3 separate regions of the Homo sapiens genome follow, and regions 2 and 3 are each linked to region 1. The links come from fine-mapping of genetic effects on gene expression. A gene starts in region 1. Each other region holds a variant in brackets. All regions are shown on one strand. Distances are between the middles of the regions.

What was found. PIP is the estimated chance that this variant, and not a neighbour inherited with it, causes the effect. A credible set is the group of variants that fine-mapping cannot tell apart.
Region 2: its variant is the best candidate, but not a certain one, in a credible set for the expression of HTRA2 in whole blood (TOPMed, PIP 0.51).
Region 3: its variant is the best candidate, but not a certain one, in a credible set for the expression of HTRA2 in whole blood (GTEx, PIP 0.52).

Annotation. Positions count from the first base shown.
Region 1 is chr2:74,528,408-74,531,164 of GRCh38, forward strand. It overlaps HTRA2 (HtrA serine peptidase 2), which reads left to right and starts at 1,526. Exons shown (of 8, transcript NM_013247.5): 1 at 1,526-2,105; 2 at 2,210-2,414; 3 at 2,504-2,698. The coding sequence starts at 1,600. It overlaps AUP1 (AUP1 lipid droplet regulating VLDL assembly factor), which reads right to left and starts at 1,299. Exons shown (of 12, transcript NM_181575.5): 1 at 1,173-1,299; 2 at 955-1,092; 3 at 725-875; 4 at 344-528; 5 at 10-82. The coding sequence starts at 1,222. RefSeq lists enhancers at 743-1,572, 745-1,627, 2,083-2,212, 2,233-2,302, 2,333-2,412 and 1 more and a silencer at 1,603-1,692.
Region 2 is chr2:74,487,564-74,490,320 of GRCh38, forward strand. It overlaps TTC31 (tetratricopeptide repeat domain 31), which reads left to right. Exons shown (of 13, transcript NM_022492.6): 3 at 2,462-2,564; 4 at 2,681-2,757. Among named protein-coding and RNA genes, the nearest start is that of TTC31, 5.9 kb to the left of the region's middle. The variant C/T (reference allele first, on the strand shown) is at 1,327.
Region 3 is chr2:74,627,942-74,630,698 of GRCh38, forward strand. The region is part of intron 2 of M1AP (meiosis 1 associated protein); the gene reads right to left. It also overlaps the pseudogene TVP23BP2. Among named protein-coding and RNA genes, the nearest start is that of M1AP, 19 kb to the right of the region's middle. The variant A/G (reference allele first, on the strand shown) is at 1,167.

The DNA of each region.
Region 1 (2,757 bases):
CACACTCACCACAGAGACCAGGGGTCTCTGAACTTGCAGGGTAAGAGGTTGTACCACATCTTGGATAGAAAATGGCCAGGAACTAGAAGAGGAAGGAGAAAGTAGGATGGGAATCCAGCCAGCCTAGTCAGCAGCTCACACCTGCCTTATAACAGGCAACTGTCAAACTCTACAAGCACATAATTGAAGAATGAAGGGATTCAGGAGAAAGAACTTAAAGTGGACAGAAAGGAAATGAACTGGAGATGATGGGGTCTAAGGGCCGAAGAAAGTTGTAAAAACTCAAGGGCCCACAAGCTTGACCACCTACCCAGCTGGCGCCCCATACCTGTGCTAAACCCACCTGAAGCGCAGGAGCCCCTCCCGGCCATTGGTGGCCTCTTCCTCAGGGAATAGCAGCAGAGGAGTGGGGGGAAGCCTCGTGGAAGCACAGAATCTCTTGAGTGACTCCACCAACTCCCCCCGCCCATTCATCTCCATGAAGCCCCGAGACCAGCACACAAAGCTGGGGGGACTATTGAGTAGAGGCTGGGAACCAGGAGAAGAGAAAGCAAGAAGAAAAATATTGAGGAAAATGAAAAAAAAAACTGACATGTTGGGTAGAGGATCGGGGTTAGGGGTAAGGCTCAGTATCCTCCATGGGGAACGCGAGTGGGGACAGGGGGGCCTTCAGCTGGGCCCCAGGGAACCGCCCCGTGGCGCTCTCGGCCTCGCTCTCACTCACGGTGCTACAGGTGGTAAGCAAATTGACTATGTTGTGGTCGAAAGGTGTCACATGGTTGGAAATGAGGACCCTGACACTGTGATCCCGGAGTCCGGAGTCCTCCTGCCGGGCCACGAGCCCTAGCACCGCACACATGGTCCGCACTACGAATCTGGGGACACAGGAGGTGGTGACTGTGTGGCCTCGGGCCAGACCCAGCTCTGACACTCCCCGAACGCCCGCGTCGGAACCTGCGAAGGACGCTGTCTGGCAGCGCGCAGCTGACCAGGAAGACGTGGATCCCGAGAAAGAGGCGCAGGACGAGGAGGCAGAACCCGACTGGCGCGTAGAGCAGCAGCACGAGCAGTAGGAAGCAGTCACCCGGAAGCCTGGGGGCGAGAGGCGAAGTGGTCAGGCGCCGAAGGCCGAGAGCACGCGGGGATCGGTCTCTTCCCGCCGGGTCTCTTACCGGTGCGAGTCAAAGAGCCGCTCCGGCCCCGGCCCTGAGGGAAGCTCCATAACTGCTGCTTCAGGAGCGCCCGGCCGTCGCCGCCGCCGCCATTTTCGCGCCCGGCCGCAGGGGCTCTTGGGAAGGCGGAGTCTTTGGGCATCCGCCCGGGGTGAGGGGACCCGAAGTCCTGAGGCGCGCCGGAAGGGCTAGCGGTCCCAGCATACCCCGCGGCCCCTTGGGCCGTCTCACAACTCGCGTCCGGCGGAGACCACAATTCCCGGCATTCGTGGGGCAGGGAGGAGTCGGCCTCCCGGAATCCTGGTCCCGGCGTGCACTTCTGAAGGACTTCAGGTACCGGCGTGCCCCGCGTCCTACTGTCCGCCTGCTCGCGTCCTGGGTGCCGCCTCTGAGTAGGGCGGGCGAGGAGGCAGCCAAGGCGGAGCTGATGGCTGCGCCGAGGGCGGGGCGGGGTGCAGGCTGGAGCCTTCGGGCATGGCGGGCTTTGGGGGGCATTCGCTGGGGGAGGAGACCCCGTTTGACCCCTGACCTCCGGGCCCTGCTGACGTCAGGAACTTCTGACCCCCGGGCCCGAGTGACTTATGGGACCCCCAGTCTCTGGGCCCGGTTGTCTGTTGGGGTCACTGAACCCCGAGCATGCCTGACGTCTGGGACCCCGGGTCCCCGGGCACAACTGACTGCGGTGACCCCAGATACCAGGACCCGGGAGGCCTCAGAGAACTCTGGAACCCGTTCGCGCGCGTGGCTGGCGGTGGCGCTGGGCGCTGGGGGGGCAGTGCTGTTGTTGTTGTGGGGCGGGGGTCGGGGTCCTCCGGCCGTCCTCGCCGCCGTCCCTAGCCCGCCGCCCGCTTCTCCCCGGAGTCAGTACAACTTCATCGCAGATGTGGTGGAGAAGACAGCACCTGCCGTGGTCTATATCGAGATCCTGGACCGGTAATGGTGGGGGTAGACCGGGAGGCACTGAAGCCACAGGCTGGAGGGCGGGCGGGTAGGAGGGGTCAGAGCCTCCTCTTATCTGTGCTTTCCCTCCATTTCAGGCACCCTTTCTTGGGCCGCGAGGTCCCTATCTCGAACGGCTCAGGATTCGTGGTGGCTGCCGATGGGCTCATTGTCACCAACGCCCATGTGGTGGCTGATCGGCGCAGAGTCCGTGTGAGACTGCTAAGCGGCGACACGTATGAGGCCGTGGTCACAGCTGTGGATCCCGTGGCAGACATCGCAACGCTGAGGATTCAGACTAAGGTGGGGGCTGGGGTAGGCCAGGTCTGGTTGGAGCTGCTTATTTGCTCGCATCTTCAGATGACAGGTCTCTTTTACCCATTCTCCCTTAGGAGCCTCTCCCCACGCTGCCTCTGGGACGCTCAGCTGATGTCCGGCAAGGGGAGTTTGTTGTTGCCATGGGAAGTCCCTTTGCACTGCAGAACACGATCACATCCGGCATTGTTAGCTCTGCTCAGCGTCCAGCCAGAGACCTGGGACTCCCCCAAACCAATGTGGAATACATTCAAACTGATGCAGCTATTGATGTGCGTCCTGATAGGAGAGAAATGACAAATGATGGGGGAGGGGGGAGAGGCTGTGTGGT
Region 2 (2,757 bases), 41 kb before region 1:
TACACTGGTTTGAGGAGGAAGAGAGAAGAAATACAGTATATATTTGAGTGGCACATCCTGAGGAGGCTGCCTGACATGGGGCAGAGAGCATGCTTTATTTATTTATTATTAATTAATTAATTTATTTATTTTTATGAGACAGAGTCTCACTCTGTCACCCAGGCTGGTGTGCAGTGGTGTGATCTTGGCTACTGCAACATCTGCCTCCCAAGTTCGAGCAATTCTCGTGCCTCAGCCTCCTGAGTAGCTGGGACTACAGGCATGTGCCACCATGCCCAGCTAATTTTTGTATCTTTAGTATAGATGGGGTTTCGCCATGTTGGCCAGGCTGGTCTAAAACTCTTGGCCTCAAGTGACCCACCCGTCTTGGCCTCCCAAAGTGCTGGGATTACAGGCGTGAGCCACCATGCCCAGCCATATTTATTTATCGAGACAGGGTCTCCCTCTGTTACCCAGGCTTCAGTGCAGTGGCATGATCATAGTTCACTGCAGCCTTGAACTCCTGGGCTCAAACAGTCCTTCGATTTCAGCCTCCCGAGTAGCTGGGACTATAGGCGTCCGCACCACACCTGGCTCATTATTTATGCTTATGTTGCAGTTAGGAAGGTGACACAAACCCACCAGGAAATTGAATTTTAAGTATAAGACTGATGAAAGTGCCTAGCAGTATTGGAGATGCTGTTAAGCCAGGACTATCTTCTGAGGGAAGCCTTGGATCTAAAATTGTTTAGAAAATTGAATATACCTTAGTCATCTGAAGTCCTGCCTACAGATTTTTTTTTAGCACGCTGGAGTTTCTAAGTTTGTGGCTTCTAACTCAATAAGTCCAAAAGATCATTGGCTTCTAAGCGTCTCAGTCAGTCCTGCTCTGTTTAGGCCTGATTAGGCAAATAGGAATGTGATCATTCCTGTCTTTGAAGCTTATACTCCCTGAGGAAATGACTCCCATCAGGACCACAGAATGTGTGGGCCAGGCCTTAAAGAGTCTTGCCTTATTTTGTGAATGAGGGAGAGGTCCAAAGAAGTTAAATGACTTCTCCAGAATCAAACAGGCAGGTAGTGTCAGAGTGAAAATTTGGACAAGCTGGACATGATGGTGCAAACCTGAAGTCCCATCTACTCAGGAGGCTCAGGCAGGAGGATCGCTTGAGCCTAGGTGTTTGGGTCTAGCCTGGGCAACACAGCAAGACCCTGTCTCAGAAACAAACAAAAAATAGTCGGCCGGGCACAGGGGCTCACACCTGCAATCCCAGCACTTTGGGAGGCTGAGGCGGGTGGATCACTTGAGGTCAAGAGTTCAAGACAACTTGGCCAACATGGTGAAAC[C/T]GCCTCTCTACTAAAAATACAAATGGTATTGTGGCGTGTGCCTGTAATCCCAGCTACTTGGGAGGGTGAGGCAGGAGAATCGCTTGAACACGGGAGGCAGAGGTTGCAGTGAGTTGAGATCATACCACTGCACTCCAGCCTGGGTGACAGAGCAAGAATCCACCTCAAAAGAAAAAATAACCTCAGATGCAAGTGGCTCCACTCCAGCACAATGCCCTTTGGAATTCCATGCTGCCTGGCCAATGAGGAGAGCAATAGAAAGCAATCAATAACAAGTTTCTAAATTGTGTAACACAGATAATGTGGTTGCAGGTTAGTTGGAGGAGGCAGAGATAATTGGAGATGAAAGGGTCTGGGAAGGCTTTGAAGGGAGATAGAATTTGAACTGGACCTTGAAGGTGAGGCAAGATGTGAGAAAGAAGCTCAAGAGTTAGGAGGGATTGGAGAGCAGCTGGGGGAAGGCCCCAAGGCTGGAGGGAGCCTGGTGGTGGGAGGGAGGACAGCAGTGAAGCAGGGGAGGATTAAAAGGAGGGCTGGAAAGGTCAGCCTGGGAGCCTTTTGGAAGGCTCTGAATCGTAGGCTGAGGAATTAGGTTCAACTCTGCCTATGGCCTTGGCAGTGGGGGATTATTGGATGTCCCTGAGTAGGGAAGTAATTTCTTAGAGCTTAGTTTTGTGGAGAAACAGATGAGGTGCAGAGGAGCGGCCAGCCAGGAGCTGCTGTACTTGTTTAGGTGTGAGCTAGCCTCAGGGTGGGTTATGTGGAGCTGTTCATACTGCAGATATGACAGGGGGCCTAGCTGGAAGAGCAGGTGGGAGGGCTTCATTCCAGGGGCCTCAGTGTGGCTAACTCAGGTTGAGGAGAGAAGATCCTGGATGGTAGAGGAGGCCAGGTTGAATACCATACTCAACCCTTGGGAAGGCAGGAAAGCAGCGAGGGGAGGTGATTCACTACAATAGCTGGGGGCAGCAGATTTTGCGGTGCTGAGGAGGGAGAGGTCAGAGCCAGTGAGAGTCTCTGGGCTGGATAGCTGGTTGGTGGCTGCCATGGTGGAGAGATCAAGCCAGCGAAGCCCTTGCTCTCTCCAGGAACTGCCCCCAACACCAGCCTCCCCTCCCCTCCCCTCCCCTCCCAGGACATAGTGGATTTTCTTCGACGGCTTGTGGAGAGTGATCCCCAGGGCCTGCACCGGATCCATGTGGATGGGAGCAGCGGGCGGCTGCAGCTGTGGCACCATGGTGGGGAGTGCAGGGACCGGGCCCAGGGATCGAGGCTGGTACCCTGGGAGGGCTGACCCTCAGATGCACCCCGCTCTCATGTCCTTTCTTTCCTGTCTCTTTCTCCCTCCTGACAGATTACCTCCTGGGCCACTTGGATGATGAAGGGAAATCAACTGGACAGAGTGACAGGGGCAAGGGGGCTGAGGGACTG
Region 3 (2,757 bases), 100 kb after region 1:
TTTGAGATAAACTAAGAACATCCTCCTATGTTCTATGGATCAAAATGCAAAGGTCTCCATTTTATATATATAAATAAACTCTTTCATTAATTTGGGATATATTGATATTACATGACCATGCGCATACCTATGGAACATGTACATACACTACAGAACAAATCTTGACAATGTTTCTACTGCCAACATACTTTCCATTCCCAACTGCTGGAAAGGAAATAAAAACAATACGAAAACTACTTTTCCTTTTTATAAATAGTTTTTAAGTGGAAAAACAAAGCCAATCCTCCTCATTGAGACATCAAATAAGCTCCAAAAGGTTCAGAGTCAAGAATCTGTTCAGTTGTTCCCCAATGTAACAAAGCACATAAGCTTTCTCTATTCAGGAAGCTTCTCCGATCATCTCCAGTGTTTCGTCTTAAAAACTGCTTTACAAGATACGAGGTAGCCATGTTGGTTAAATTATTTCTGCTGCTTACCTTACACCTGATGTAACCATATAGGTTGGCATCTGCTAACACCATACCCATGATAACCACTGCTAACCAGTTTACTCTGAAGGAGAACAAGGCACTAAAGGCAAATATCACCCAAAGCACTGCACAGACTGTAAGTCCCAATCAAAAGATTCTTGATTCAGCTTCTGACACAGTTTTATTATCTTGAGAGGAAGACTTTCTAGATTCAAACACCCAATGGTTCTTTCCATCTTCATCAATGTGACTCCACCAACATAGGCCAACCATTAGTCTACCTGTGATATTCTTTGCTGCCCAAAAGTCACATGACAACAACAAGATAATCGTCATCATACAGGCAATAAAGCTGCTGCTGAGTAACTCACAGAGAAGATAGACAATGATTGCACTGACTTGAAAGAATAAGTGGAAAACGATACCACTGAATATCTGATTTTTGGATTTTTTTGGTCTATTAGTTGTCTCCTCTTCTGCATCAATTAGTGAAACATCTGCAGTGTCATCATTACTATCCTGCTGCTTCATGGCCCAGAATACTTTCAAATAATGGTGATGATACTAAACTTCCTTATCTTGCACGGGAATGTCTTTAGTGTTTTTCCATTAAGAACAATACTAACTCTTGAATTGAAAAAGAAATGTATTATGCTAAAGAATAGCTATCTGTTTCTGTTTTATTAGAGTTTTTAC[A/G]AAACAAAATTGGATGTTGAATTTTATCAAATGCTTTTTCAGAAGTTACAGAGATGAACATGATCATAAGATGTTGCTTCTCCTTAGATAGGTTAACATAGTAAATTATATTAATAGATTTTCTAATATTAAAGCATATTTCAATTTTTGGCATATAATTCTTTTAATGTGACACTGGATTATATTGCCAATACAGGTAAACCATCCCTAATCTAAAAGTCTGAATCTGAAATGTTCCAAAATCCAAAACTTTTTGAGGGCCAACATGAGGCCATAAGTGGAAAACCGCACATCTGACCTCATGTGATGGGTTGCAGTCAAAACTTTGTTTCATGAACAAAATTATTTTAAAAATGTTGTATAGGCTGGGCGCGGTGGCTCATGCCTGTAATCCCAGCACTTTGGGAGGCCCAAGTGGGTGGATCATGAGGTCAGGAGTTTGAGACCAGCCTGGCCAAGATGGTGAAACCCCATCTCTACCAGAAAATACAAAAATTAGCTGGGTGCGGTGGCGGGCACCTGTAATCCCAGAAACTCGGGAGACTGAGGCAGGAGAATCGCTTGAACCTGGGAGGTGGAGATTGCAGTGAGCTGAGAACATGCCACTGCACTCTAGCCCGGGCGGCAGAGCAAGATTCTGTCTCAAAAAAAAAAAATGTATAAAATTACCTTCAGATGGTGTATATAAGGTATATACGAAACCAGTGAATTTCATGTTTGGACTTGGGTCCCATCCCTAAGTCATTATGTACATGCAAATATTCCAAAATTCAAAAAAATCCAAAGTCTGAAACACTTCTGGTCTAAAGTATTTTGGATAAGAGATTCACAACTTTTTTTTTTTTTTTTTTAAGACAAGGCCTTGCTCTGTTGCCTAGGCTGGAGTGCAGTGGCATAATCATGACTTACTGCAACTTCAACCTCTGGGGCTCAGGTGATCCTCCTGCCTTATCCTCCTGAGTAGCTGAGACTACAGCTATGTACCACCATGTCTTTTAAAAAACTTTTTTGTAGAGGTGAGGTCTCACTATGTTGCCCAGGCTGGTCTTGAACTCCTGGGCTTATGTGATCCTCCTTCCTTGGTCTCCCAAAGTGCTGGAATTATAGGCATGAGCCACCTCACCAGGCTGGTATATAGGTATTCAAAACTGATATATTTTTAATAGGCTCCCCTTCCAACAAGCTTTCTATGCTAAATATCTTCAATGCACCTTAAAAAAATTTTTATTTTATTTTAGGTTCTGGGATACATGTGCAGAACGTGCAGGTTTGTTACATAGGTAAACGTGTGCCATGGTGGTTTGCTGTACCTATCAACCCATCACCTAGGTATTAAGCCCCACATGCATTAGCTATTGGTCCTGATGCTCTCCCTCCTCCCGCCTCCTCAACGGGCCCCAGTGTGTGTTGTTCCCCTCACTGTGTCCATGTGTTCTCATTGTTCAGCTCCCACTTATGAGTGAGAACATGCCGTCTTTGGTTTTCTGTTCCTGTGTTAGTTTGCTGAGTATGATGGCTTCCAGCTTCCTCCATGTCCCTGCAAAGGACATGATCTCATTCCTTTTTATGGCTGCATAGTATTCCATGGTGT